Homo sapiens: one gene and its partner. The protein of the gene in region 1 purifies or fractionates together with the protein of each later gene. This does not show direct contact. Each region holds a gene or a part of one and is shown on either strand. Other genes may lie near its edges. The genes, in order: TEX36 and DRC8.

The links.
Region 2: the proteins of TEX36 (region 1) and DRC8 purify together in Homo sapiens (affinity purification with mass spectrometry; one large-scale study listed by BioGRID and IntAct). This does not show direct contact.

The regions. Positions count from the first base shown.
Region 1 is NC_000010.11:125,662,657-125,666,490, reverse strand, and holds part of TEX36 (testis-expressed protein 36), read left to right. Parts: intron 1-3,834.
Region 2 is NC_000001.11:245,084,627-245,088,616, reverse strand, and holds the end of DRC8 (dynein regulatory complex protein 8), read right to left. Parts: exon of another isoform or gene 1,858-3,990; coding exon of another isoform or gene 1,823-1,857; exon of another isoform or gene 1,373-1,822; coding exon 1,257-1,372; 3' UTR 780-1,256; downstream 1-779. UniProt on the Homo sapiens protein: Component of the nexin-dynein regulatory complex (N-DRC), a key regulator of ciliary/flagellar motility which maintains the alignment and integrity of the distal axoneme and regulates microtubule sliding in motile axonemes.

The DNA of each region.
Region 1 (3,834 bases):
ATCACACCAACAAAATGAAGGACAAAAACCATATGATTATCTCAATAGGCACAGAAAAAGCATTTGATAAAATTCAACATCGCTTTATGATAAACACTCTCAACAAACTAGACATAGAAGGAACATAACTCAAAATAACAAAGACCATATACAGCCAACCCACAGCTAACATCATACTGAATGGAGTAAAGTTGAACGCCTTTGCTCCAAGAACTGAAACAAGACAAGGATTCTCACTTTCACCATTCCTATTCAACATAGTACTAGAAGTCCTAGCCAGAGCAATCAGTCAAGAGAAAGAAATAAAAAGCATCCAAATTGGAAAAGAAGAAGTGAAACTGTCTCTTTTTGCTGAGGACATGATATTATATCTAGAAAAACCTAAATACTCTACCAAAAAAAACCCCACTTAGATCTGATAAATATATTCAGTAAAGTTGCAGGATACAAAATCAACATACAAAAAGCAGTAGCTTTTATATATATCAGCAATGATCTAGCTAAGAAGGAAATCAAGAAGGCAATTTCATTTATAATAGCTACAAAAATATATAAGAATAAATTTAACCAAGGAGGTAAAATATCTCTATAAGAAAAACTATAAAACATTGATGAAAGAAATTAAAGATGACACAAACAAATGGAAAAATATCTCATGCTCCTGCGTCGGAATACATCATTAAAATGACCATATTGCTTAAAGCAATCTACAGGTTCAATGCAACCTCTATCAAAATACCAATGTCATTCTTCACAGAATTAGAAAAAACAATCTTAAAATTCATATGGAATAAAAAAGAGCCAGAATAACCAAAGGAATCTTGAGCAAAATGAACAAAGCTGGAGGCATCACTTATTACAAGACTATAGTAACCAAAACAGCATGGCATTTGTATAAAATTAGACACACAGACCAATGGAACAGAATAGAGAACCCAGAAAACTGATCTTTGACAAAGCCAATATGAACTTATATCGGGGAAGCAGCACCCTGTTCAATAAATGGTACTGAAAGAATTGGATAGCCACATGCAGAAGAAAGAAACTGGACACCTATATCTCACCATATAAAAAAATCAACTCAAAATGAATTGAAGACTTAAATATAAGATCTGAAACTGTAAAAAACACTAGAAGAAAACCTAGAGAAAACTCTTCTGAACCTTGGTTTAGACAAAAAATTTATGACTAAGATCTCCAAAGCATAAACAACAAAAATGAAAATAGACAAATGGAACTATATTAAATCAAAAAGCTTCTGCACAGCAAAGGAAACAATCAAAAGAGTAAACAGACAATCTGTTGAATGGGAGAAAATATTTGCAAACCATTCATCTGACAGGGGAATAATATCCAGAATATACAGGGAACTCAAACAACTCAACTGTAAAACAACAACAACAACAACAACAACCAAAAAACCAAGTAATTCCATTAAAAAGTGAGCAAAGGACATGAATAGACATTTCTCAAAAGAAGACATGCAAACGGCAAACAGGTATATGGAAAGGTGCTCAACATCATTGATCATCAGATAAATGGAAATCCAAGCTACAATGAGATATCATCTCACCCCAGTTAAAATGGCTTTTATCCTAAAGACAGGCAATCACAAATGCTGGTGAGGATATCAAGAAAAGAGAACACCTGTACACTGCTGGTGGAAATGTAAATTAGTACAGCCACTGTATTAGTCTGTTTTCACACTGCTATAAAGGACTACCTGAGACTGGTAATTTATAAAGAAAAGAGGTTTAATTGATTCACAGTTCTGTATGGCTGGGGAGGCCTCAGGAAACTTACAATCATGGCAGAAGGTGACAGGGAAGCAAGGCATATCTTACATGGCAGCAGGAGAGACAGTGAGCAAAGGGGGATGTGCCACACTTTTAAACCATCAGATCTCATGAGAACTCACTCACTATCATGAAAACAGCAAGGGGGAAATCCGCCCCCATGATCCAATCACCTCCCACCAGGCGCCTCTTCTGACATTTGGGGATTCTAATTCAAGATGATTTGCATGGGGACAACCATATTAGAGCCAAACCATAGTAGCCACTATGGAAAATAGTATAGAGGTTCCTCAAAAAATTAAAAATAGAACTACCATGTGATTCGGCAATCCCACTGCTAGGTATATACCCAAAAGAAAGGAAATCAGTATACTGAGGAGATATTTGCACTCCCATGTTTATTGCAGCACTATTCACAATAGCCAAGATTTGGAAGCAACCTAAGTGTCTATCAATAGATGAATGGATAAAGAAATATGGTACACATACAAAATGAAGTACTATTCAGCCATAAAAATGAATGAGATTCTGTCATTTGCAACAATGTAAATGGAACTGGAGGAAATGTTAAGTAAAATAAGCCAGGTATAGAAAGGCAAACTTTTCACATGTTCTCACTCCTTTGTGGAAGCTGAGTATTAAAACAGTTGAACTCATAGAGAGTAGAATGATGGTTATCAGAGGCTAGGAAAGGTAGTGGTGAGGGACATGGGGATGGAAAATGGTACAAAAATATAGTTAGGATGAATAAGATCTAGTAGTTGATAGCATGACAGGGGGGTGACTACAGTCAATCATAATCTATTGTACATTTTAAACTAAAAGTATAATTGGATTGTTTGTAACACAAAGAAATGATAAATGCTGGAGGTGATGGATCCTCCATTTCCCCTGATGTGATTATTACACACTGTATGCCTGTATCAAAATATCTTATGTACCCCATAAATATATACAGCTACTATGTACACATAAAAAATTTAAAAAATTTAAAAAAGGAGACATATAAATGGGAAACAGGCATATGAAAACATGCTAAACATCACTAATCATCAGGGGAATGCAAATAAAAACCACGATGAGATATCATCTTATCCCAGTCAGAATAGCTATTACTAAAAAGACAAAAAATAACAGATGTTGGCGAGGATGGGGAGAGAAGGGAACTCTTATACACTTTTGGTGGAAATGTAAACTAGTAGAGCCACTATGGAAAATAGTATGGAGATTTCTCAAAACTCTCAAACGAGAAATTACCATTTGATCCAGCAATGCTACTACTGAGTATCTACTAAAAAAAATCAATATATCTGAGGGATACCTGCACTTGCATGTTTATTGCAGCACTATTCACAATAGCAAAGACATAGAATCAACCTAAGTGTTCATAAATTGACGAATGGAGAATGAAAATGTGATTGCTATTTAGCCAAAAACATTTGCAAACTATTCACACTATTGGAGTGTATACATTTCCTCTTTGTATCAAATCTACCATATCAGGTAGGTATTATTATTCCCATTTTACAGATAGGGAAACCGAGGCTTGAGAAAGTTTAGTCTCTCTCATCAGGCTCACCTAGGAGATAGGAGAGAGACCTGGGGTGGACTCAGGACCTCTGAATGTCCAGCCTCTGACCCAACCACATTATGCTTCCTTCTCCCTTTATGGGAATTTTCATTGAATTGGGTCTTGTCTTTTTAATTTCCATTCATTTCCTCCTAGAGAGTCCTGCTTCAGAGCTCACTTTGTTGGGGTGGCTTTTAAGAGGCACCATTCAAATAACATTGGGGTGAGCTTCTCTTGCCATAAGAGCTAGCCACACCCCCCTTCAGGAATGAAAGACTCATCACTCTGGCTGCTGGGAGCATGGCCCTCACTGCCCACACCTACAGGTCTGTTATCTGAAGAGAGCTGCCTCCCTAGGGTCACGCCTTCTTCTGGGGGTAGCTCAGGAATAAATCCAATGCCTCATTGCTTGGTGCACAGAGACTGGGTCCCCTCTCCCCAGCTCTGAGTGGCCACCCAATGTCCAGA
Region 2 (3,990 bases), on another chromosome or scaffold:
TATCTGAAATGTGGCTGCTGACTGCCTTGCAGGCTTCCCTCACTAAACTGTGACCTGGATTCGTTAGGGACTCCGGTTCCCAGCACATCATCTCATGGTACTCCTTCAGTGTTTCATGAATGAATGAACAGCGACAGTCTCTTGGGTAGCAGCCGCCTCTTTTGGGGGCAAGACTACATGCCTGAGGAAGGCTCACAGCAACTCTAAATGTTTACATCTATGTAGATACACACATATAGTGGTGAAGCCATCTTCAAATAGAGACCCGTGTGTGTGTGTGTGTGTGTGTGTGTGTGTGTGTCTTGTTATAACAGAATATCTAAGTTTGGAAAATTGTTCACTTCCCTTTACTTTATCTTCCCCTTTGCTTGTAAGTTGCCATATAGTTGCCATATAAGATGCCAAGATCGGAGAGAATTGCAAGGAGGAGGCAGTGGCCATGCCATATATTTTTCCATTGTGACTGCTTGTGCTTCATTCTGCTCTTTCAGGAGCTGTACATTTGCACACCATAACATTTCTCAGTATTCTTACTCAGTATTCAGGACAATGCTCCCATGACAGATATGCGGAGTGGGTGAGAATTCTAAAGACAAAGGGAGAATTGCCACTACCTTACACTATCAACTTCCACTCAACCTTCTTTTCTCTAGTTCCAATGATCTCAACTCCTTTAGCTACTCCATAAATGGTGACATGCTGGATCAGCAAATATAAATGTTTACACTAAGTTATTATTATCCCAAATGATATTTGTAATTGGCACTCATAAAAAAATAAATTAGTAATATTTATTTTGATAAATCACCTTCCACACTCAGATTGATGAAGCATTTGTTATTGTTTAAAAAAGAAGCCTTCATTACACTGCTACTCGTTTTCGAGTGGTTCGTTCTGCCCCCTCTTAAGATCTTTACATGCCAAACCTTGGGTAATTAAGTCATTTTCATTTTGTCAGCTTAATTAATTCGAAGGTGACCTGAGTTTTATTGTAGAAAATAAACAACAATCCATTCTAATGTTAAAATGTTTTAAGAATAGTTTTTAAATAAATAGTAATTTATCATTCTGTAAGGCTAGACATACTAAATTTGGTTTAAAGTGTTACGATCATCTTTAAAAACAAAGTGTCTTAAAATAGTTATGTCACAAGGTATTAAATATCACATATAGGAATCCTAAGATAAGATGTGAAATTAACAAGAACAAGCAATTTCTAAAATTGTTCTTTCAATCAGAAATTATCTTTAGAACATTTAATTTTCATCTATCACCATCATTGTTATATAGTCCTTGTAATTAATTGAATTTGATTCTGGATCAATTGCAGCAGACAACATTTCTTCCATTTCCTCTTGAGAAAAAGGCTCACCTCAGAGAGACAAAAAGGAAAATTTATCATTTAGGATCATCTGATTTTTTTCTCTTTCCACTAGCCAGCTTAATAGCCATGGAGCCCCACAAGCTCCCACAGTGCCACTAGTTACGCTCCCTGGAGCTGTAGAGCCAGGACATCACGACAGTCCAGAGGTTCAAAGACAAGGCTATTGTACACCCTGGTAGATTCTGGACTTCTTTTAGCCTGCAGATGTCATAGATCAAGCAACCTCTAGAACACGTCATTTCAGGCAAAACAGTAGGAAGACATACAGACATCATGAACAAGGTTATTTATTTAGATTAAAACTTTTGAAATTACCAGAGGATTAACTTGAAGCCCCAGTATTTGATGAAAGATGGAAGGAAGATAACTGAGTGGTTAAAGCACAAGTTTGGATCCACATGCTGGCTGCCTCTCACGAGCTCTGAGATCTTGAGCAAGTCACTTCACAGCTCCCCACCTTAGCTTACCTGTCTCTAGAATGGGGGTGATAACGACACCACCTGTCACATAGGGTTGTCATGAGAATGAAACGTGTTATGATTTGAATGGGACTTAGAACAGTACCTGGCATAGAAGCAGCAACATGCAAGTGTTTGTTTAAAAAATTGTTCTGAGATCTTCCCGGCTGCTAAACACTGTCTGATGCAATACACATTCCTGGACACTTAGGGACTTCTATCTTGTAGGAACTTGATTCAGTGTGATTTATTTTATCATATGACATCCAGGGCTGTAGGAATGCATATTCTCAAACTAGTGTGTTTGATACTTTGTGGATATTAGGATGAATGTGCAAGTAGCTTGAATCCATATTGTTATATAGCATAAATGTACTTAAAAACAATTTGTAGAATTCTGAGACTCTCAAAGCAGCAATTCTTAAGCTCCTATTTTACCAAACTAGTCAACTGCTATTACACTTAGCTGATGGGTCTGTTATATTAAATCGTAACTTAGATTTGTATAGATTTACATCTTACATATTACTTCCAAACATATTGGTTCATATATGTGGAAGGTTTGTAATAATACTTGCTGAGTGAATAATTGAAAACATATGTATTCTTATTTGACCATACCTGTCCTATGCTTAGTCCGCTGAGATACTCAATAGTTGATCTTTAAGTACCATGAACTCTCTGTAAACATACCATTTTCGAAATTATCACACAGCACCTCCAAGTAAACCACGTGGTCGCACTGTCTCTGTATACACTGCGGTCTGTTCTGACCTTTCTGTTTGAGTCAGTCTCATTACCATCATACTCGCCATCGAGGGCAAAGCCTTGGTGGTACTTTGGATTCAGCTCTCAGCTTTGTCGCCTACACTCTGTTACTCATCATGACCCATGGATCCTGCCACAGACAGTCCTATTGTACCAATCCCTTCTTCCCATTGCCATTCCCACTGCCAGGTCAGGCCCTTATTTGGGTGCCCTCAAAATGCTGAAATAACCTTCTAAGTGGCCTCCCTAGTCCAACCTCTTTCTTATGCATCTAACAAACCGACCAGCACCAGAAAAACCTTCTCACAATCACTCACACACCATGTGAGTCATCTGCTCAAAAGCCTGTAATACTTCTCCATCGCCCACAGGATGAATTCCAAACTCCTGAGCCTGGGACTCCACAATTTAGTCCCAGTAAGTCTACTGAAGTTAATTTCCTGCTGTTTGCCAACATTACCCTCTGGGCCAGCTAGGCTTATTTTCTCTCTGAAATAGCATGTTCATTCCTACCTCCCCATTTTTGTTCAGACTGTTTTACACATCGATAATGTCTCCCTCTCATTAGCCCCTTCACCTGGTCTTCATCATCTACTCATTCACTCATTCATTCAACAAACATTTGTTGATATCTACCATGTGTGACAGAATTATAATGCACAAGAGTTTACCTTTGCCCTCAACAATTTAACCATATACATTCTACCATCTCAAAAAACCTATTTTCTCTTTAAGTCTTCCCAAACCAAGTTTTCCAGGCTGGGCCAGCCCTAGTTGATCTTCTGATATTTAGCTTTCTATTGTCTTGTATTGTGAATTATTTTATGTTAGTTTTATTTCCCAAATAAGATTGTAATATCCTTGAGAGAGGAAGTAGATTTAAGTATCATTATACCTTACTACACTTACTAAATATTAAACATATAGTAGGCACACAACAGTAGGAAAATCTAACTGTTTGGGCCATTTTGACTAAATTCATGTTGCCTGATATATAACCTAGGATTTACTTTCTTTAGACTAATCCTCAGGATGAAGAAGCTGATGCTTTGAAAGTCGTAACATCCCCATCAGAATTAATCCCGAAGGTAATTTTAACAATGGCGTCAGAGTTCTTGGGTGGCAGCTGTGACGGCCTTGCCATTCTGACCCTCACTCTCTGTATTCCGCCTTAAGGTGGATGAAGCTGGAATGGTCAAACCAGTTGTGCGTGTAGATGCAGTCTTAGTCTTCCCTACTCAAAATCACTTGCGCTTTTCATTCTGCCTCAAGTGATTAGCAACTCTGAGTCATTCAGGACCCAGTCTGTGAACCAGAGAGCTCTAGCTTTGTATGGGAGAAGGCAAGGGGACCAATATGAGGATGGTTTCAGGAGACTGT